7 linked regions of the Homo sapiens genome follow. The protein of the gene in region 7 interacts with the protein of the main gene of each other region in a pairwise test. Each region holds a gene or a part of one and is shown on either strand. Other genes may lie near its edges.

What was found.
Region 1: the proteins of FSD2 (region 7) and PBX3 interact in a two-hybrid assay, tested with the Homo sapiens proteins (3 studies listed by BioGRID and IntAct).
Region 2: the proteins of FSD2 (region 7) and ZNF230 interact in binary tests that used the Homo sapiens proteins (3 or more experiments, as listed by UniProt).
Region 3: the proteins of FSD2 (region 7) and UBTFL1 interact in binary tests that used the Homo sapiens proteins (3 or more experiments, as listed by UniProt).
Region 4: the proteins of FSD2 (region 7) and ESD interact in binary tests that used the Homo sapiens proteins (3 or more experiments, as listed by UniProt).
Region 5: the proteins of FSD2 (region 7) and OXNAD1 interact in binary tests that used the Homo sapiens proteins (3 or more experiments, as listed by UniProt).
Region 6: the proteins of FSD2 (region 7) and CDC73 interact in binary tests that used the Homo sapiens proteins (3 or more experiments, as listed by UniProt).

The regions. Positions count from the first base shown.
Region 1 is NC_000009.12:125,928,873-125,932,372, reverse strand, and holds part of PBX3 (pre-B-cell leukemia transcription factor 3), read right to left. Parts: intron 2,719-3,500; coding exon 2,528-2,718; intron 1-2,527. UniProt on the Homo sapiens protein: Transcriptional activator that binds the sequence 5'-ATCAATCAA-3'.
Region 2 is NC_000019.10:44,009,457-44,012,956, reverse strand, and holds part of ZNF230 (zinc finger protein 230), read right to left. Parts: intron 2,689-3,500; coding exon 1,493-2,688; 3' UTR 1-1,492. UniProt on the Homo sapiens protein: May be involved in transcriptional regulation.
Region 3 is NC_000011.10:90,084,808-90,087,631, reverse strand, and holds UBTFL1 (upstream-binding factor 1-like protein 1), read right to left. Parts: upstream 1,683-2,824; coding exon 501-1,682; downstream 1-500. UniProt on the Homo sapiens protein: Essential for proliferation of the inner cell mass and trophectodermal cells in peri-implantation development.
Region 4 is NC_000013.11:46,773,162-46,776,661, forward strand, and holds part of ESD (S-formylglutathione hydrolase), read right to left. Parts: intron 1-3,500.
Region 5 is NC_000003.12:16,292,712-16,296,211, reverse strand, and holds part of OXNAD1 (oxidoreductase NAD-binding domain-containing protein 1 isoform 2 precursor), read right to left. Parts: intron 1,357-3,500; coding exon 1,215-1,356; intron 1-1,214.
Region 6 is NC_000001.11:193,230,031-193,233,530, reverse strand, and holds part of CDC73 (parafibromin), read right to left. Parts: intron 539-3,500; coding exon 377-538; intron 1-376.
Region 7 is NC_000015.10:82,757,966-82,761,069, forward strand, and holds part of FSD2 (fibronectin type III and SPRY domain-containing protein 2), read right to left. Parts: intron 1,636-3,104; coding exon 1,383-1,635; 3' UTR 1-1,382.

The sequences.
Region 1 (3,500 bases), on a different chromosome or scaffold from region 7:
GAGCCTACATGACTTTCAGTCTGAATAGTTGCGTAAACATAGTATAAGTGTTCAAGGGAAGGAAGGGCTAGTCCAGCAGGGTGATTAAGGTGGATTTTCTGAAAAGCGAGCATTTAGACCAGATCCGGAACGATGAGCAAGATCTCACTAGATCCAACAAGTACAAGCACTGGTTCCATTCCGGGCTCCATTCCAGATACCCTCACAGATGATGACTCATTACTGGTAACCAGCTTAGAGAGACAGTTTGTTGTGGGAGCCAGGGAAGTAAGTGGTTAGACTTAGGAAAAGAAGGAATTCTAAGCAGTAGAAACATAATTCCATGAAGCATTTCATTTTGGAAGAAACACAGGAAAGAACAATTTAGTGATATATAAATAAGAACACTGAAAATGTTCAAACTCAGATCTAATAATTCCATTTCTAAGAATTGATCCTTAGGAAATAATCCTAAAGACCAAAAAGGTTCAATCAATGAAGATTTTCATTAAAATGTTAGTTTAAATAAAAATCTATCTAAAATAGTACCCTCTCCATTTTCTCTCCCCTTGACTTGCTTTATTTTTCTGCATACCACTTATCACCCTATTACATTTAATTACATTATTAAATAGAATGTTATGGTATATTTGTTCACCTGTTTACTGTCTGTTTCCTCAAGTAGAATATAAGCTCAATTGGGGCAAGTATATTAATCTGTCTTGTTTACCAATATATCCTCAGTACCAATAAATATTTGTGGAAGGAAGGAAGAAAGGAAGAAATTATATGAAAATTAATAGTTGGCTGGGCATGGTGGCTCCTGCCTATAATCCCAGCACTTTGGGAGGCAGGATAGCTTGAGTTCAGGAGTTCAAGACCAGGCTGGGCAACATGGTGAAACACCATCTCTACAAAAAATACAAAAATTATCCGAGCATGGTGGCAAATGCCTCCCAGCTACTCGGGAGGCAGAAGCAGGAAGATCACTCGAGCATGGGATGTCGAGGCTGCAGTGAGCCATGATAGCATCATTTACTGCACTCCAGCCTGGGTGGAGTGCATAGGGAATGCATAAGGGAATGCTAAGGACATTATTTATTTTATATCCATTTGGTAACTTCAATTGTTAAAATGCTATTAATAATTAGAGCTTATACTACATGAAAATGTTCATGTATTCATGGTAAATTTTTTAAAAAGCAGACCAAATTATGCATATTGACCCATCACAGAAATATTTCTTTTAAAAAGCCCCCAAACAAACAAAAAGAGAGAGAATATTGTAAAACATTTATAGTGATTTTTTCTTTAGGTAATAAAAATGAGGTTAACTTTTATCCTTCATCCTTTTATTCCATATATTTTCCAAACTTTCCATAGTGAGCTTGGCATTTTTAAAATAGAAAAAAGAATAATAAAATCTTCACAACAACAAAGAAGTAATGCAGACAGGAACAGGCCTTAAATGTCAGGTTAAGGAGTGTATATGTGAAGTATGCATGTATCGAGCATTGGAAAGCTACTGTGGTTTTCAAGCAAAGCAATCATGGTAGCACGGTGATGTTATAGAAACAGACAAGGGATATGGAGGATGGGCTGGAGGGCAGTAGGACTGGAGACAGGGAGACTAGTAGGTACTGTGCTAGCCCATGTACAAAAGGATGGGCAGGAACTGAGATGAAAATAAAGAGCTAAAATGAAAAACACTGAAAATGCTCCACACACTTTGTTTTCCAGTTGAGAAGCTATCTTAGTTATTTCCTTTAATACTGTGAGATTTGGATGATAATTATCACCTCTGTCAGATTCCATGGGAGAAGAAAGAAAAACAAAATAGAAACTTCTTTCCAAAGCTGCAGATTCATCATAAGCTTTAGCAATGCCCCGAGAGGCATCCCTACAGGGGCAGCGTACACTATGACGTTGACAATTCTTCTGTTCTGTCACTCAGTAGGTCACTGTAGACAATTTATTACCATATACAATATATTACCTAACTCCTGTGAAACTTGGGGAAAGCTTCAGATAAAGGGAAATTTTCATCCTTACAGGAAAAATGGTAGGCTTTCTTTCTTGATTTGGAAATACAGATTCTGGAGTTTTGTGGTAACTGCTATTAACTGAAATGCCACTTCCTTCTTAGGAGTATCAGTATCTCCAAGTATTTTCCCATATTATGCACAACCCGTGTAACATTAAGAAATTCTTACAAAATACCCCTTGTTAAAACAGTTATATGCAGAAAACTATCCTTAAAAATACCTTTTAGCATCAGAATGGAAAGGCTACATATTCCTAAAGTCATTAGCAGAGACACTAATCCTATTCATTTCCTGAGTCACTAAACTGGCAGCTAACCCACATTACCATTCCCAGACAGGAAAGCTTGACAGCACAGGAACCATGAGTTGAATTACCTGTCCATTGTACAAAAGACTCATATGGCCAAAAGAATCTAAGACCAACTGGTCAGTTTTACAGAAAATAATACACAAGGAGTGACAGACGGGGGAAAGCCATGCAATAGATTTATGGCTTCACATACCTGGCATCAAGGAACCTTGATCTTAAAATCATAACTGCTTCACAAGTGCTTTGTTTGAGCTGCATCTGAATGGAACTAAATTTTCGATGGATGATGCCCACCATTCTTTCAATCTCTTTTGGAGAAATGGGACGTGTTCTACTCTGTTCTCGGAGAAGGTTCATCACATGTGTAGTAAATTCATTACATGCCTGTAATGGGAAAAAAAAATCACTCCTTTGGAAACTATCTACTATCACACGAAGACATTCACTCATCTGAATTTACACCTCATTTGCATTCACCAATAGCATTATACAGTGTGTAGGGTAAAATGAAAACTAAGACACTTGTAAAATGGTAGTAATAGTAGTTAAGGCAGCAAGAATTCTGAAACCGTGCATGGTCAGACGTGCAAGGAGACAGCATTCAACTACTCTTCCCACCCACCCCTGTCCAGTTCCAAAATGATGTTTTCCCATTCGAGGATGCTCCCTATCAATTCCCATATACAAGTAAAAATATATGTTAATTGTTAATACTAAGTACCACCTATTTTCTCTGGAGTTTTACATTTAATCAACAAATGCTTACTGAACAACTACAAAGTTCAAACTCTTGCCAGTGCTATAAGGAACACAGAAATGAGCAAGATGCAGGCCTGGCCTTTGGTGAGAAAAAATGTATAAAAAACTAATTCAGTGCAAAGACTAACAGGAAGATATTAAGTTCCAAGGAAGGAATATTTTCATCTGTAGGCTTCACGGATTGAGCTTTAAACAATAGGTAGCATCTTTGAAAGGTGGATAAAGATGGAAGTCAGGAGGAATTCCAGGTACTAGAAATAACAGTATGTTGCAAGTTCAGAGAATGGCAAATAGGAATACAGATAATATGTAAAGAAGCAAAAGGATTCAGGTTTGAATTAGCACATAAAGGGCCTTGCGTGCCAAGCATTCCAATGACCTATTATAATTTAGCTGTAGTGCAGGCC
Region 2 (3,500 bases), on a different chromosome or scaffold from region 7:
TGTTGAATTTATATTGTATGCAACCAATGGAGCATTAGACAAAGCCACTAGTAGTAAACTTCAGAACAGAGGATGAGGGGAAGCCAGCAGCCAAGTGCAACAGGGTAAGATTACCCAAAATAATGCTTTGGATTGCAGAACTGAGTGTATTCTGCATTTTAACTCGTGTCCCTGAATTATTTTTTGTAGATTTTCTCTCCTAGATGCAATTTTAAAATATCATATTTTCTCCTTTTGAGTCATTTAACACATACTAAACATGTAAGTGCTAATCAGTGTTAAGGTCCTGAGGATGCAGAAAACAAGGTACCTGTAGTTGACATTCTAGTGGTCACCACTTTTGACATGTTCATCATTAGGGTTTTGTAAATGTGTGAACAAACTCTTATTCTAAGGCCTGTCTCCTGAATGACAAGCGTAAGTTCTGTTTGCAACCCTACTGCACAATTTACAAGAGTTCTCTACTACGATGGTCCTAGGATGATGGGAGAATGCTGAGCTATGGTGAAACACTGAATTTAACTTAAACAAATGTTTTCTGTCCTACAAGCCTGGATGAAATATATTATCAGTATGGACTGTGATAAATTATGATATAAACACACACTGAAGTGCTTACCATATGCCTCTTTTTAATGTTTTGCCCCTTTGTGAACTCTCAAATGAGATTATAGACAACTGAGCAGAGACTTTATCACACACCTCATTACTAAGGATTCTGTCCAACGTGGACACTCTGGTGCAGTTGAGGACTTGAGGCCTGAGGTGGTATGAAGCCATATCACCCTAGCCACACTTCCATAGTTTTGCTCTTGTGTCAAGCCTCTGAGGCATAAGATTCGAGTGATCTAGCAATCCCACTATTGAGTATATCCAAAGCAAAGGAAATCAGTATGTGGATCAGATATCTACACTACCATGTTCATTGGAGCACTATTCTTCACAATAGTTAAGATATGGAACCCACCTATGTGTCCATCAATAGATAAATGAAGAAAAGGTGGCATATATACACAATAGAATACTCTTTGGGCATAAAAAGAAAACAAAATTGTGTCATTTGTGGCAACATAGATGAGCTTTGGAGGACATGTTAAACAATATAAGCTAAGCAAGGTAAGATAAATACTAACTGTCCTCACACACATATGGAAGCTAAAAAAGTTGATTTCATAGAATTAGTGAGTAAAACAGTGGTTCTAGAAGCAGGGAAGTGTAGGGGTTAGGTGAGATAGCCAAAGATTGGGTAACAAGATACATAAGTACTGCTAGATAGGAGAAATACATTCTAGTGTTCTAAAGCACCAAAGGTGACTATAATCAACAATAATTTATTGTTTCTTTTCAAATCGCTAGAACAATGGATTTTGAATTTTCCCAAAACAAAGAAATGTTAATTGTTTAAGGTAATACACTAATTACATCAATTTGATCATTACGTATTATATACACATATTAAAATTTCATACCATATCCCATATATATGTACAACTTACATATCATTTAAAAATAATGATAAAATTATATCCAGATTCAAGCGCCTCTTGTAGCGCTTCCCACAGTCCTCACATTTGGATGAGTTTTCTCCATTGTGGTCTCCTTGTTGGTCTTTACAGAAAGACCGGTGTACAAGCCTCTTTCCACAATCCTCACATTTGAAGGGTTTTTTCCGGCAGTGGAGTTTCTTATGATTCAAAATACTTGAAGCCCGGCTAAAGCTCTTCCCACATTCCTTACAATTATAAGGTCTCTCTCCAGTATGGACCCTCTGGTGCAAGTTAAGACCTGACTTACTAATGTAGCCCTTCCCACACTCCTCACATCTGTATGGTTTTTCTCCACTGTGGATTCGCTGATGGATCAAAAGATATGAGGACCATCTGAAGCTCTTCCCACATTCTTTACAATTGTACGGTTTCTGTCCTGTGTGAATTATCTGATGCTTATGCAAATCTAGGCTATCAGTGAAGCCTTTTCCACACTCCTCAGATTTGTACAGTTTCTCTGCTGTGTGGACCATGCAATGCCTATTAAGACTTGACCTAAGGCAGAAGCTCTTACCACATATTTCACATTTGAACGGCTTCTCCCCAGTATGAATTATCTGATGTTTCTGAAGCTGGAAATCGTGAATGAAGGCCCTCCCACATTTCTCACAAATATAAGGTTTCTCTCCTGTGTGTAATTTGCAGTGAACTTGAAGTATCGCTCTACATCTGAAGCCTTTCCCACATTGCTCACATTTGAATGGTTTCTCTCCAGTGTGGACTCTCTCACGAGTTTGCAGACATGAGCTCTGACTGAATTCCTTACCACGCATGTCACACTTAGAGAGTTTCTCTCTCAAGTGAACTCTCTGGTGAATACGAAGAGCTGAGATGTAACAGAAGCTTTTTCCACACTCATTGCATGTATGAGACTTCTCTCCTGAGTGGAACTGCTGAGGAGGATCAAAGATGGCAACATCACTGAAGGACTGTTTACACTTCCCATTCTGTGAAGGTTTCTGTCCTGTATGAATTATAGATAGTCCTGCCTCAACCTGGGAGGGGACATCACCTTGTTCAAAGAAGTGAGAATTATTTATGATGGAGTCTTGAGACTGGGTTAAGTCACTTGCAGTTTGTTCCCAGATTTGCTGGCAAGGGCAGTCTTCATGTGGTCCTGCTTCCGCAATAGTCTTGCCGCCTATAAGGACACAGAATGAAGAGATGTGGACAAATGAAGCCTTTGTTTGGTGTTTTTAAGATTTCACACTTAGGATATGGCATTCAACTTTAATGAATGTTCAGTTTATGTTTTCCCCATGAATCTTGTTTTCTGGTTTGTATGTGACCAATTTATAACCACACCATGTCTCATATGTAAAATCCTTGATGGAAATAACAGACTCCATTAAAAAACTGATATAATATATACATTTAATTTGTTACTATTTCTAAGGAATTTTCTGGTCAGTCAAAAATCTTGCATGATAAATTACTAAATTAAAACATTATGTTCATAGTGAAATATAAATCAAAAGGAAATTTAAGGAAAAACAATAACAAAATCAATAGTTTATATATCTGTGTTTATGTTGTATATCCTTATATAGAAGTTACCCTAAGTAAAAAGAAGTCAGAACTTTGTCCTCAGCATCTGAGAGGTAATCTCTAGGATCCTGACATATCATGCGGGAGGACAGTGTCTTTGTTTGTTAGGGTGCCAACTCTGGATCACTCTGGATAGTGAAACAATATGATTTAGGGTTGTGGCTGGCCACTCCTTTCGAGGGTGAGGGGTGGGAGACCGTCCTCCCCATGTCAGAAAGAACAAAAGTGTTGTTTAATCTGTGAAGTCTGTTATTTGTTACCAGCAACAGGGAATACAGTGTCCATGACAGGACAGAGTAACAGCAGGGAGGACAACGTGGCTGGAAAAGATGATGCAAGGGCGAGAGGACAGATGTAGTCAAGAGGCAGCAGGGGATGAAGAACAAACCTCAGGGTCTCTAAAAG
Region 3 (2,824 bases), on a different chromosome or scaffold from region 7:
ATCAAGAGTGGGACAATTCTCTTAAGACACCTACCCCACCTTTCATCAAATATCCCCGACCTTAGATTTAGTGCAGGAGTCCTGAAAAACATTTCCACAGGGAAGTTTGGGTCCCAGGCTTATGGGTATCCCCCTACCACCTTTGGCAGGACAAAAATGAGTAAAGCAAAGCTTCTTGCTTCAGAAATATTCAGTCTAATACAGTGTGTACCCCACAACGTAATCATCTCTTCATTTCAGAAGCCTTAATTGCATAAAGTTCCTCGGGAAAGGGATGATATTTGTTTGTTTGTTTTTTTAAGGATAAGGCCAGTATTGGCTCAAACTTATATTTATTCTTCCCAAAGAGTTCCTCCCAGGTTCATAATCTTGATGTAGGAGAGTGCTGCACCAAGTTGCTTCTTTCTTCCCAACCTGTCCTACTTTGCGGGAGGAAGGAAGAAAAGAAAACAAACAAACAAAAAAAAAAAAACAAGGAAGCTGCACTAGAGCCACTGCCCTCAGACATCAACTTCTATTTCTTCTCCACTGCTGCAGTCTGAAGAGTTACTGCTTTCTTCCTTTTCTCTATCTTTCTTCCTGTTCTCTTCTGGTTCCATGGAGACATGACAGTTTACCCAAATAGTCTGTGATGAATCTGTTCCTGCAGCCTGGAGCCCTTGCCCCTCCCCAAACCCTTCTTGCAGACCCTTTGCTGATGAGGACTGTGGATCTGCTTGTTTCAACCTGGGGTCCGGGCCTCCTGTCATGGCCATATTCTTACCCTTAGCATAGGTCGATTCTTTGTATGCAGCATAATTTTCAGGTGACAAAGTCTTGAGCCAGAGATCCAATTTCACCTTGTATTGCTTCTGCAGCTCCTCAGCCTGGCTCTTAAAATGATCCTTCTGGCTCTGCGGGATGCGCTGCCAGCGTCTGCCAATCTCTACCATGCGCTCCCTCACTGACAAATGTTGCATCTCTTTACTTGACCAGGAATCTTGGTGAAACTTGTGGTATCCATTCATGGGGGGTTTCTGAGGCTCTCCATGAAATTTTACCTTCTTGAAAAATCGATCCGTTTTTGGAAGAGACCTCACTTCTTCAATATTTTTCTGAAACTTCTTTTGCACTTTGTTTTGAGTCCTCTTGGAGACACTAGATTTCTTGGCCTTCTGGACTAAATCAGGGTGTTCTTCCCTGAATCGAGCAAGTTTTTCCTCAAATTCTTGCTTTTCCTTCCGGAAATCCTGAATATATTTCTGTTTCATCTGCTCTGGGAGTTCCCTGTATTTCTTTGACAGGATTTTGGTCAGTTCCTGGCTTCTCATCCCAGGGTACATTTGGGAGTACTGGGGCCAACTCTCCTTGAAGAAGCGATTGTAAGCAGTAAGGGGCCTCTTTGGAAAGTCTGGACCGTTCCTGTATTTTTGGCTTTTGTTCATCTTTTTAACACATTTCTTAGCTTCCAGGACTAATTCTTTCAAAGTGCCGAATTTTCTCAAGTTGCAAGAAATCTCTAACCATTTGAGTCTGCACATTTCACCAGAAAAGTTTTTAAAAGCTACTTTTCCCCAGTCCATGTGTGACTGAGTTGAGCTAAACGTGCTGTTGTCATCAGATGGGCGATTATTCTCCATGCATTCCAGTAACCTCAAGATGTCTTTGTTGGACCAATGGCCTTGGCTTCTAGGCAAAGCCATTTAGATGTCTTTGGCTTACTTATAAGATCCCGGTTATGTAGACACCAGAGCAAGAACACAGAGTTCTTTACTTTTAAGACTCAGTGGATGATTTATTTCTGGAAGTATTGCAGTATGTGTGATTCTGTATTTCTGAGGAGAAAGAAAGTTACTCTCCTTCATTTGGATTAATGAAGCAAATTACATCCTATTTGTCATATGTCCCTTGTATAATTCATTTGACCCTTAACTATAAATAAACATTGCCTGTTTCTGAATTAAATTTATGTTTGCCTTTCATATGCTACATGCACAATATTCAGTATCTCCACACCCCACCCCAGCCTGCTTTCTGCCAGATCTCACATGAACCTATCTTAAATTGAGTTGCATAACACAAACACCAGACCACTCATCACTTAAGAAGCTTAATATAACAGAAATGCCCTGAAGACAGAGTCAGAAGTTAAAGTGGAAGGAGAAATGCCTAAACAGGAAGGACTGTTCATTCTACAGTGCCCTGAGTATGGCCATTTTCTAAGCACAGCCCAAATAGCCATAGCTAAAGGTGCAGATGAGAAGTTAAAGATACAATCGGACAAGCCCAAGAGCTCCTCCAGACATGCATCCAACTGTTACCTTTTTATAAGGGAATGTGAACCTGTGATAAAAGACTGAATTATAGATTCTCCAGGACCAGTGCATGGGAATTAATGCTTTCTTGCTTTCTTTTATTTCTTTTTTTTTTTTTTAATTGAGACGGAGTTTCACTCTTGTCGCCCGGGTTAGAGTGCAGTGGGGCAATCTGGGCTCACTGCAACCTCTGTTTTTCAGCTTCAAGTGATTCTCCTGCCTCAGCCTCCCAAGCAGCTGAGATTACAGGCATGTGCCACCACGACTGGCTAATTTTTCTGTATTTTTTAGTAGAGATGGGGTTTCACCATGTTGGCCAGGCTGGTCTCGAATTCCCAACCTCAGGTGATCCGCCTGCCTCGGCTTCCCAGAGCGCTAGGATTACAGGCGTGAGCCACCACTCCTGGGCCGGGAATGAATGCTTTCTAAGAACCATACTGCTTCTCCTTTTAAATATCAAGGATTTAATGACAATTATAAAACATTTCAACTTTATTTGGTTAATTGTTCATCATATTTAAGCCTCAGTG
Region 4 (3,500 bases), on a different chromosome or scaffold from region 7:
ATGTCTTTGCTATTGAATAGTATTGAATAGTACTGTAGTGAACATATGTGTGCTTGTATCTTTATAACAGAATGATTTATATTCCTTTGGGTATACACCTAGTAATAGGATTGCTGGGTCAAATGGCATTTCTGCCTCTAGGTCTGCGGAATCACCACACTATCTTCTACAATGGTTAAACTAATTTACACTCCAGGTGGGAAGAACTTTCTAAGGGTATCAAACACCAGATAATTTATCCCTATCTACAATTAAAATACAAGGTTGAATAAACCGAAAGAAATGAAAGTCTAACAAAGATTTTGTTTTTCCCATTTTGAACTAGTGAATGGTCACTGATGGGAAAAGATGGGAATTTTTCTAAGCACCTAAGAAATAAAAATAGAGCTAATAAAAATATCACTGACGCTTCAGAGAACAAGGAAATCCCCAAGGTTTTGATGAATCAGTAAATGTTCTCAATCTCTCCCTTCCAGAGAGGTATTAAATGTTTATCTTGGGAACAGCTGTTAATAAAAAGTTCTAGTTTAAGGTCAAGGTAACTTAAGTCTTCTAAAGCAATCTGTCTTCTATCATGGAAGTGAATGTGACAGGAATGTTGTCAAGATTAAAGCTGAGCCTCGGAATTACTTGGTGTCATGTCTCTCAATGATTAGACTAGTCCCAGCTGGCTAGTTGAATTTAGAGCTAAATTACAGTTTCCTATATAAAGAAAGAAATGTAAAGAAAAACATTTTCCATCCATATAATTCTTGAATTGTTAAGAAGTTAAACAGGCCTGGAGTTTTAGGCCACCAAACCTGTAAAATGTACCAAGTATTATCTGCCATTTTTCACAGATCAAAAGATGGATCTGATAGAAAATGGGTACAGATGCAGGGAAACAGATATCTCAAAAGACTTGTGTGACCAAGTTCCAATGTGACTGAGTATGCCATATTTTTATCCTTAGTTTCTTGTGTGTTAAGAGCCATCAGACACATATGAATAGCCATCATTATTATTAGAGAAGTCCCAAGGTAAACCCAGGAATATATTGCAAGACAAGACATCTAAAATCCAAAACAAATGACCATAAGTTCCATAATGATAAAGATTCACCTATATGAGAAAGAAGAAAATGCCTGCCATTGAGGGCCCAAGAATTTTAAAAAATGTCAACAAAAAGGCAATAGAATACATTTGAACAATTGGTATCCTGCTGAAGTTACACAATTCGAGCTAATTGTATCATCCCTGACGAGGGTTTCTATTTATCAGTCTTATTAAATGGGGATGGCTTCTTTAATTAAATTCTTTGATGAATGAGTTGGTATGATATGTTAAGCAGCTTGTGCAAATGCCTATGTTTAGTGACACTTGAAGGGGACTTTTCTCCTCTACCTCACACTTTAAATGGAAAATCCTTGGTAGCAAAACTCTTGACTCCTGGAGTATAAAAATAAATGAACACCTTTCATTCTTTCATTCTTCACTCAGCTCTCAAAAAGGGAGCAGTGCTCCAGCAGCTATGATGGATGTTTATCCTAACAGGCAGTGTTTTCTTATATATTTTCCAGACCCAATTAGAAAAGCTTGGATAAGAATCCCCAGGTTATTAAATCTCTTCAGTGTATAAGGAGGAAGACTTTGCACTGTATTCATTTAACAAGTATTGAGAGTCTCTGTGCTAGATACCTATGCTAAATAAGCATGGGATACAGAGATGAATGAGAGAGCTCTACATTTCTGGGATTCTCTGCCATGTTCTTACTCTTCTCTAGCAGGCAGATGCAGAGGCTAAAACAGCCTCTCAATCTTCAAAAAGGTCCTGAGACTTAAGGAGGTAGTATAGCCTCTCCTTCTATTCCACAAAAAGAGATTACTATTTCTGGAAACTTCTTCACAGTATTAGGTCACTAAATTTTTTTTTCTCACTGTGTAACTCCAATAACTAAAGATAAGACATACTAGGCCCTTCTTTTTCAGACTAAGATTTGATCTCTGTACACTAGATATCAGAATTCTGCTACCTAGTATTTTTTTTTCAATTTAGATTCCCTGAAGCCAAAATAGAAAAAGAAAAAATTATATAAAATAATAACCAAATAAATATCCCCGATGCACTAACCCCTCTCTCTAAAAAATTTTTTTTGACATTCGACAGAGTATAAATATAAATTGTGAGCATTTAACACCATTAAAAAGAGGTAAAAGAATGAAGTTGAGTAAATCATGTGCATGATTGTAATTATTTTCTTTATTCTTTCTCAGATCGTTTATTTATATATATCCCCTATTATTTTCAGCTTATTTTTTACAGCTTCTATCCCACAAGGAAATACAGTTATACTATACTTGTAATCAAATGATAAAGCAGGTGATAAAACTCGCAGACCCAGGGTAATCTTGGGTCAAAGCTGGCAAGAAAATCTGAAAGCAGACTCTCTGGAGCCACTACTTAGGCATGCTCATTCAGTTGTTGATTCAATTACAACGAATCTCAACGAAATCCGCTTCAAGCTATGTAGTCCACTCTTAACCCGACCATGCTGGAAGTAAAGTGAATAGAAAATTGCACCTGAGCTCAACATTGTGACTCTGGTGCTTTGAATACTTTCTTACTTTTTTAGAAGAATTGAATGGTTTGTCTTGACTCCTCATTAAGTATAGCCAACTATGTGTTCTAGTTGCTTGGGATACAGGCATTTTAGAAACAAATAAGTGGACTTATTTTTCCCTCCAGGAATGTCATCATGTTCTAACTGTGCTGTTTTTATAACAAACTTGAGATTTTCAGACTTTGTTGGCAGGCAGAATCATTGTAGAAACAACAGAAATTTTGGGCCCAGTCTTTGGGGAAGCAAATGAGGTATCCAACATGGGTAGTGCCAAGAAATTAAGGTCATTTGGAAAAAACATGGTTTGGTACGCACTTATAGCTATAGTTATTGCAGTTAAACGTATTACTATATTTATAGTCAAATTGGTATTTGGATTTCTCAAGGCTGGTTGTTGACCTAAAATTTAATTGTGATGGTAAATGTTCAAATAAATCTAAAACAAAATTCTATTACTCAAGGATGGACACTAAGAGACAAACAGTATATCATGTATTAGTTTTTGACATTTTCTCACTATATAGTTCACATGTGCAAAATATCCCTAAAAACAGGAAGACTGCTCAGATCTTCTGCATAAGTTACGTAGGCAGCAAGCTATGCACAATTTCTCCTTGTGCTAGCTCTAATTCCATTCCTTTGCTCCTCAGGAGAATATCATGCCGTCTGAAAATGGCTTGATAAATGACAGGAGGTCAGTATTTGCAGTTAAATGGCCTTAGTTCCAGTTCTGGTTCCACCACTTACTAGCTATGTGGCCTTAGATAAGTAGGTTACTTCTCTGAGCCTGTCTCCTCATTTGTAAAACAGATGGATAGGAAAGAAATGATATCTCATTTGGCGGTATAAGAATTAACAATGAGTTAATGCTGTGAAAGCATTTTACAAACTAATGTACCA
Region 5 (3,500 bases), on a different chromosome or scaffold from region 7:
CAACATAAAAGCTCTCTTCAGCTACTACAGGACATATTAGTTCCTACAAACATGATTTGCCTGTGTGATTCTTTGCGTGCCTTCTCTCCTAACTGAACCTTGCTGCGTTCAGGTGGGCCTTCTACAGCCACAAAACGCAACTGTGTTTCCATACCCTCTTTGCAGGCAAGAGCTGTAAGTCCCACCCCACTCCCTCATGTATTTTTGTTGGTGCTCTATGAAATTTGCTACTCGGCCTCTCTCCTCTACTTATTTCCATGTGGCTCCTACAGAAACCCAAAAATTCTCTGCAACCTTTAAAAATATACTACAGTGTGTTTCCAAGTTTTGCTGAAAATAGAGGTTTTGTTTTCTTTTTCCTTCATTGATTTTCAATGATTTCCAGGAAACAGGAAAATGCTGTTTTTGAAGCCATATTTATACTGGTATGTGTTTTTGGTAAAGAAGGTAAGAAAATGCCTGGTTGGGATGGAGGTTGTTGGTAAATATAGAAGACACTCTTGCAATGAAGAGGAAGTGAAAGGAAAAGGAAAAGAATAGAAAAAGCAATAAGTGAAAAGGATAGAAGGGTCAAAAACTAAGACAACGAGTAACTGATCTGTTCTGAGCTCATTCTTTGTTATCAGAGTTCTAGTAGGTAATGACAGGCAGCTTCTGTAGGATTGTGTTGAGCCCTGTGGTGAAATAAGAGTTATTAACAGCAATCAAATTGGATTCTCTCTCAGAATCCCGAGTGAAGAGCTTTCCAGACACTGAAATAGAGAGGCAATGGCACCGTGGATTTAGCTGTGCTCACCTCTGGGAAGAAGCAGTACTATGTAATCAGATAGTTTCCCCTCCAAAAATGACAGAATAATAATTTAATTCCCTTTATTTAGGATGGTTAGGACAAAATAATCTGATTTATAGATTTACCATTTACATGACACAGAGAGCCAACTTTTTAGAACTTGTCTAAAATATAAAATATTTTAATTCTAAAGCAGTATTCAACTGAATACCGTTTGGTGACCCAGAAAATACTTCCAGATCCCAAAGTCTCTGACTCATACTTAATGCATCAAAGTTTCTTTGACCTTTCTTAGAAGCTCTTTCTGGGCATGTACCCTTTTACTCAAGCCCAGGTTTCTTAGGTGAATCAAATGAGCTTAACACAAATTTTGTGGGTGGCAGAGATACCCAGATCATCGCGTTTAAACAGGCAGTGTGCTTACCGTATTGTGAACCCAGAGGGCAGGAGGGTGGTTCGTATATTTCACTGCCAATTCTATCACTCTCTCTTGTTCTAGCAGTCTGGGACTGGAGCATATTGAAAACCCACCAACCACAGAGACTCCTGGAATAAAGAAATCAACCCTAAAAAGAAAGCCAAATAAATGATTATTGTTGAAGCAATTTTAAAAATTGGTAAATTAAACAGAATTGACAAACCTTTGCAAGACTATGAAAAAAAATTACTAAAATCAAGAATAAAAGAGGAGATATCATCACAAAGCTTATAGAAATAAAAAGAATTATAAAGGAATTCCATGAACAACTATATGCCAAAAAATTAGCTAACTTACATGAAATGCACACATTCCTAAAATGACATAAACTACCAAATCTGACTCAAGAAGAAAGAAAATCTGAGCAGACCCATAACAAGTTAAAGGATTGAGTTAATAATTTTAAAACTTCCCACAAAGAAAAGCTCAGGCCCAGGCCAGTCGCAGTGGCTCACGCCTGTAATCCCAGCACTTTGGGAGGCCAAAGCAGGTGGATCCCCTGAGGTCAGGAGTTTGAGACCAACCTGACCAACAGGGTGAAACCCCGTCTCTACTAAAAAAAAAATACAAAATATTAGCCAGGCGTAGGGACGCATGCCTGTAATCCCAGCTACTTGGGAAGCTGAGGCAGAAGAATCACCTGAACCTGGGAGGTGGATGTTGCAGTGAGCCAAGATTGCGCCACTGCACTCCAGCCTGGGCAACAAGAGCGAAACTTCATGTCAAGAAAAAAAAAAAAAAGAAAGGCTCAGGTCCAGATGGCATCCTGTTAAGTTCTATCAGACATTTAAAAATTAATACAAATCCTTCAAAATCTATTCCAAAAACAGAAGAGAACACTTCTCGACTCATTTTATGAGGCCAGTATTACCCTCATACCAAAGCCAGACAAAGACATTGAAAGAAAACTATAGACCAGTATCCCTTCTGAATTTAGGTACAAAAATTCCAGGAATACAAGGTTGGTTTAACATCTGAAAATAAATAAATGTAATACACCACTCAGTAGAATAAATGACAAAACCCACATGATCATCTCAATAGTCAAGAAAAGACATTTGACAAAATCCAACACTTTTTCATAACAAAAATACTCAACAAATTAGGAATAATTGGGAACTTTCTCAACCTGATAAAGGGCACCTACAAAAGACCCATAGCTAACATCCTACTTAATGGTGAAATGCTGAAAGTTTCCCCCCTAAGAGAAACAAGATTAGGATGTCTACTTTCACCACTCCAACTCAACATTGTACTAGAGGTTCTAGCCAAAGTGAGTAAACAAGAAAATGAAATAAAACGTGATCAGAACAACTAACATCCTACTTAATGGTGAAAGGCTGAAAGTTTCCCCCCTAAGAGAAACAAGATAAGGATGTCTACTTTTACCACTCCAACTCAACACTGTCCTAGAGGTTCTAGCCAAAGTAAGTAAACAAGAAAATGAAATAAAAGGCATTCAGATTGCAGAGGTGGAAGCTGCAGATGGTATGCTGTCATATATAGAAAATACTAATGTATTCACTAAAAAGATATTAGAACTAATAAATTCAAATAAGTTTGCAGGATACAAGATCAACAGACAAAAATCAACTGTATCTCTATACACTAGCAACGAACAATCCAAATGTGAAATTTAGAAAACCAATTACACTTATAATAGCATAAAAAAGAATAAAATAATTGGGAATAAATTTAACAAAATAAGTGTAAGACTTACACAGTAAAAACTACAAAACACCATTGGAAAAAAATTAAAGATCTAAGTAAATGGAAGCATATTCCATGTTCATGGCATGGCAGACTTAAATATTGCTAAGATGGCAATACTCCTCAAATTGATCCACAGATTCAATGCAATACTTACTAAAACCCCAGGTGTTTTCATTGTAGAAATTGACAAGTTGATCATAAAATTCATATGGAAATTTGAGGAACCCATAATCATCAAAACAATCTTGAAAAAGAAGTTTACATTTGTAGGACTCACAGGTCCTGATTTCAAAAGTTACTACAAAGCTACAGTAATGAAAATGCTGTTGTACTGACATAAGGACAGACATGTAGATCAATGGAAAAGAACGGAATGTCCAGAAATAAAGCCTTAAATTCATGGTGAATTGATTTTAGACAAGGCTGCCAAAGCAATTTAATGGCAAAAGAACAGTCTACTCAACAGTGGCACTGGGAGAACTGAATAACCACATACAAAGAATGAATTTGGACCCCTAT
Region 6 (3,500 bases), on a different chromosome or scaffold from region 7:
GAGGAATTATTAGAATGTTAACATTATTGATGACCAAAGTAAATATACATCAACACACTTTTCAAAGACAGTTTCTATTTAGAACCCATGATAAAATTTGATAATTGCTCACATGAGAAAAAACAACCAACAATATACAGAAAACAAACGAATATTTAAAAAATATAGGCTGCCAGGTGCAGTGGCATGCACCTGTAGTCCTAGCTATTTGGGAGCCTGAGGCAGGAGGACTGACAGAGCCCAGGAGTTCAAGTTCTGCCTAGGCAACATAGTGAGACCCCATCTCTTAAAAAGCAACGTCATCAACGGCAATAACAACATTCATTCTCTTGGGTTCAACACCTGTGAAAAGATATATATATAGAGACTATCTTACCAGTCTTGAGGCATAAGTTTAAGGGGCTGGTCTACTACTCTATAAGGTACTGTAACACTAATTGCAGTGCCCCCTGGTTGCATCTGGTCTTTTCTTCTTTGTATTAGAGTTTCATTTTCTCGTTGACAACCTTGTTTCTTCTTTTCATCTGATGGGACAAATCTTTGAAAAAACAGAGATGAGAAAAAGTCAATGTATTCCACGTGATGAAAATGGGAAGATAAACTATAATTTGAAATATTTTTTTTTTTTGAGACAGAGTTTTTTCTTATTGCCCAGGCTAGAGTGCAGTGGTGCAATCTTGGCTCACTGCAACCTCCACCTTCTGGTTTCAAGCGATTCTCCTGCCTCAGCCTCCCAAGTTGCTGAGATTACAGGTGACCGCCACCACGCCCAGCTAATTTTTTTGTATTTTTAGTAGAGATGGGGTTTCACCACGTTGGTCAGGCTGGTCTCGAACTGCTGACCTTGTGATCCACCCGCCTCGGCCTCCCAAAGTGCTGAGATTACAGGCATGAGCCACCACGCCCGGTCTGAAATAATTTTTAAACATTAATTAGTTTTAAACTAAAGATGTTTGTTTTTAAATAAACCTGCTCTGCAAGTACAGATCATGGAGTGTATAGGTCTTTCCTCTGTATACCAAATAGAACTCAAGCTCACTCAGACCCTAAGTTGGGTGTGTGTGTGTGTGTGTATGTGTGTGTAACACCACACAATTTATATTCATTCAACTAGCACTTAGCATTTTCCACACTAATACTTAATTTCTCAAATTCTATTAGAGGAAAACTTCATGATAAAGAGGAATTTTATTAGAAATCAAAAGGTCATTTGAAATGAAAAAGTTGTTGTGGCTAGTAGGCTTCTTTACGACTTAGCCTATCCAGGAGCTTCATAAAACTTTTTTTTTTTTAAGATTTTATGCTTCAGCAAAATTACAAAAATACCATCAAACTTCAGAGTAGCCTTGAAAATTTTAAAGTATGAAAATTAAATCAGTGCATGCTGATAACCTGCTATTATTATCAACTAGTGGCATTTATCAACTTACTTATGTGGATCCATTCTCAAGACAGATATTCTTAAAAATAACTTAGCAATCTGGATAGCTATTACCACCTGTAAAATTTGCTAGTGTTCACAAAGTATTTTAAAAGTCTTATTTTCTAAATATATACATAATCCTAACAGTCCAATAACATATTTTATTAACTATGATCTAGTCTCTCCAATAAAATGGAGGGAATACAATCAATATATTGAGAGTATCATTCTGCTTCTAAAGTTTAAAAGAGATGAAAGGGTGAAAGGACCAAAAAGCACAGGAGAACTTGCACTAATTAGAGTTCTCTGAAAAACTTCAATTACACATATTGGATTCATCACATAATACTAATTTTATTGTCTAGAAAGTTTTTAGTTCATGGTGATAATGATGATACTGAACTTTGCTTCTGAGCTGATTGTTCTCACATCCATTTTACATTTGGTTAAAAAGTTAAGATTTCTATATCATTTAAAAATTTCCCCCAGATAATCATTTGCTTCCTATGGCATTTGGTTTATTTATTAATCAAGCTCACTTAGAAAATGCCAGACAGTACTAATACTTTGAATAATGAAACACATTATTTAGAAAATTTAATATGTGTGCATTGTTTGAAATTGCATTCTAATAAAAAGCCACAACAAAAATGTTTTAATAGTATGTGCAATACATTGTGCTATAAGTTTTATAATATACATAGTTGTACAAAACATAGTCCCTGCCCTCTTGAACTTATGTTCCACACACACAGAACAAAGGGATTCTACTGCCAAGAGAAATGCTTTGTTTTATCTCAGTCTATAACTACATGGGATTTAAACTGTTTTAAGTTGTTAAATATAAGACTGCATCTCCCTCTTTTCTGGCTTCTGAAATTTTAACATGGTGTTAAAGTTTAAATTTACTTGTACAAAATTACTTATAAACTTATAAACAAAATTACTTATAATCATATGACTAGAATGCAAAATACATACAAATGAGTGATCTATTACAATACCAAACTAATAAAAAGTCTATTATACACCTATTTCAACTTTTGCAGGTCTACACATTGGTTGATATGTTTTATAAAAGCTCAGAAACATTAACGTGGTTTTTACAATTAACCACCGTCCTAGAATTTTTAGATGCTGTAGCATGTTAATTTCTGATTATATCTACGTATTTTCTTAGAATTAGTCATCTCTATTAGCAATAAAAAAGGCTTTATTTCAAAACGCTTTTCAGCAAGGATCTCATTTGAAAACATAAGGATAGATCTTATGACCTCTTCCCTAAAGTTAAGTCTACTAAAAAGATTAGTATTCCACAGAGTCAATATAATTTTACCTGTTCACCCTACTGCAGTTCATCAAATCTAAGACACAATGATTGTGAGCTACACCATTATATTGTACCACTATGAAAGGAAAAAACTACTGCCAATTAAACTATGATATTCTACATAAATCACAGTCATCATCCCTCCAGAAAACTGGTTATTTCTTCTGGCTTGGGCTGCACTGCTGGGTGTGTGATAGGCAATTGTTTCATATGTATCTCAGGCAAAATAGGTTCATCTACTATTGCTATCTTCCATTTTTAGGTTCCATAAAGCTCCTGGTTGTTGCTTTGCAAAAAAAAAAAAAAAAAAAAAAAAAAAATACGGGATTAGGGCGAGGTGCAGTGGCTTATGCCTGTAATCCCAGCACTTTGGGGGGCCAAGGTGGGTGGATCATTTGAGGTCAGGGGTTCGAGACGTCTGGCCAACATGGTGAAATCCCGTCTCTACTAAATATACAAAAATTGGCTAGGTGTGGTGGCGTGCGCTTGTAATCCCAGCTACTCTGGAAGCTGAGGCAGGAAAATCACTTGATCTCAGAAGGCAGAGGTTGCAGCAAGCCGAGATCACACCACTGCCCTCCAGCCTGGGGGACAGAGTGAGACTCTGCCTCAGGAGAAAAAAAAAAAAAAAAAAGAATGGGAATGTCATTCCTCTAATGCGGAAGAATTCAAACATCAAATCTGCACTCCACTGCTTCATTTTAGTGTATTTTTGAATATACAACATTTTTATTGACATAAAATTTA
Region 7 (3,104 bases):
AGTGGCACAATCTCGGCTCACTGCAGCCTCTGCCCCCGGGTTCAAGCAATTCTCCTGCCTCAGCCTCCTGAGTAGCTGGGATTACAGGCGCCCACCACCATGCCCGGCTAATTTTTTGTATTTTTAGTAGAGACGGGGTTTCGCCAGAAAAAAGAAAAGTGGACTTTTTTTTTTTAAACACAAAACCTTAAATGATGAGATTAGGGCATATCTGGGTTTAGAGGCATCTGTGGGACATGATACTGAATTGTAATTGCTTCACAAATGGAATTATTCTGCAGCTTCACTCACAAGCTTTGAAAATGCTGTGTGTGCAGAGCTTAAGTGGCAACTGGAAACTTGAACAGGAGAACCAGGAATGTAGCTGATGGAGTTGGGCATTGAGCTCACAGAATGGCCTGGGGGCAGTGAGGCAGGATGCCTGAAAGCTGCCTAGCTAGAGATCAGTCTTCCTTCCCGTGCTCAGCTTTGCCCTTTGGTGGGCTGTTAATTTCTTTTAAAAAATTGTTGTGCATTTGCTAATATGCCACAGATGCCCTTCTGTTCTTTCACGCTGCCTCCATTCTAGGTTTTTTCCCATTTCTTGGCCATAGGTCCTTTGCTGTAGTTTTGAAAGAGCCCTGCCATCCTTCACATGGAGAGCAGTAAGAGGCCAAAGAGCAGTGGCTGAAGAAGATACTAATTTATTCAACAAATACTTGGTGACAGCTGTTATGTGTTAGCCCTTGGTGATCTAGCAATGAACAAAACAGGCACTGTCCCTCCCTTCATGGAATTAGGCATTATAGAGGTAATTTCAAAATTAGAGAGTGGTGCATACTGTGTAGGAGTGGAACAGGGAATACCCTGTATGCAGAGTACACAGTGGAAGGGACCTCACCACAGTGCTGCTCACTATTGGGAAAACGAGGGTAGAAGACATTGAGAAGGGCACACAGCTTCCCTGGTTCTCTACAGACAGCCTCTCGCCTTCTCAAGTGTATTCTTGGCTGACTCATGAAATGCATGGGTGTACTGGTGCTGCTGGAGCCATTAAGACTACCCTCGTCCTCTCCCAAGCTCTCTAGGTCTTGGAAACTCAAGATATTTTGCATATACACGAATATAGTTTGACAGCTTCAAAGACTTTTGAGTTCGTTTAGTCTGAGCCTTTATTTTACAGCTGGGCCTGGTAATGACTATCCTAGCAGCACACAGGTAGCAGCACACAGGACTAGAATCCAGGTTGGGTGAAATGAGCGCTAGCACACCAGTCAGATAATAGCATGAGCCATAAATTGTGCTGGGCACATGGTGCTTAAGTGCCAGGTTCAGCCAGCTAAGGCGTGAGCAGCTGCGAGAGGGGTAGGCATGGAAGACAGGAAACTGGACATCAGAATGTTCTAATAGAAAGTGACATGTTTTGGCATTGAAATGCCATTATGTACCTTTAGACACCCAGGCTTTTCCAAAGAAAAACAGGGATGCACAAATTCGTGAAGCTGACAACTAAATGTATATAGATGCTGAGAAAGGTCCACATTGAAAAATGACAACTTTGAATGTTCATAGTCTAATAGAATGCCAATCTTCTTTGGTGGAACTGTTATTCTTATATCTGGAGTTGTTCTGTTGTGCAGAAATTCATACTTATGCCTGAAAATTAAATTTGACATAATAAAGTTTCAGTAATTCTATAGATTGACTATTTATAGAACATTTCATACTAATTTTATTCATAGTCCTATGATTTTGCTATTTTCTAGTATTAAATGACTACCAAGGTGACAAGCCATTTCTAAAACTATACTCTCTAAACTATCTCTTTTCTAAAATTTGTCCTAAGAAACATTTTCTTTTTTTTTTTTAGATGGAGTCTTGCTCTGTCACCCAGGCTGGAGTGCAGTGGTGCAATCTCGGCTCACTGCAACCTCAGCCTCCTGGGTTCAAGCAATTCTCCCACCTTAGCCTCCTGAGTAGCTGGGATTACAGGCGTGCACCACCAAGCCCGGCTAATTTTTGTATTTTTAGTAGAGACAGGGTTTCACTGTGTTGCCCAGGCTGGTCTCGAACTCCTGAGCTCAGGCAGTCCACTTGCCTTGGCCTCCCAAAGTGCTGGGATTACAAGTGTGAGCCACTGCTTCTGGCCGAAACATTTTTCAAACATCATTTTTTCTCTAGCAACCTCTTAACCTAAGAAATTTACCTATAGCATCCTGAACTCTCTTTCATCTAAACTAGCATAGGAATAGAACATGTTTTTAAAATTTGGATTAGACATTTGAAACAGGGAACCTTGTGATTTTCCATGTGATAAAATGGGCTTCTTGGTATAAGCTCTTCTATGCACAGTTACTCCAGTTCTTAAACTTTCATATTGAGTGGGGAGCCAGTGGGCCTGTTACCAATCAATACTATATCACTATCCATGCTCTACATCCTGTGTACTTTGAAAAATGGCAGAAATGAAAACCTGTCACAGGAATTTCCTAACCCTGCTACCTACAGATATTTGAAGAGCTCTTTGTGTCAACAGGCTAGTCTAGGCTACTGGGATAAACACTTGGAATATGATCTAAACGTGTCAGAGGAAGCCTGCCTGTCTCTAGCCCATTTCACCTTAATTTAACTAAGCAGCTGCCAGAAGCTATGAGTCGTTTCTTCTACTTTCTATGCTACCACCAATAAAGTCTAATACTATGAGCCAAAAATGCAAGTCTGCTAGGAGACCTTATCCTAGGATACCTTACCTTCATTCTCCACTTGTAACGTGTGTGCACGTGTGTGCGTGCACGCACACACACACACACACACACCCTACATCTGTAAGAAACTGGCTTGGCTCTAGCACTTGGACTGTAGCTTTTGCCCTTCTTTTGTCATTCTTCTGTTTCCACCCCTCTTCTATTGTGTCTTCTTACCCCCTTTATTCTTCCCTCTACACGTGGACTTCTAGGCTTTCTTTATGCTCCCTTAGTTTTACTCTGCCCCTTGTTCTTGCCTTTCTAAAGAAGAGACTTTGCTCTTTAGTCTTACTTCAGGCAGAATCCCCAAATAAAGTATCTGCCTCAGTGTATAGTAATTCTTGGATTCCCCAAACTGGGTGTGAGGTTTAGTAGATTTCA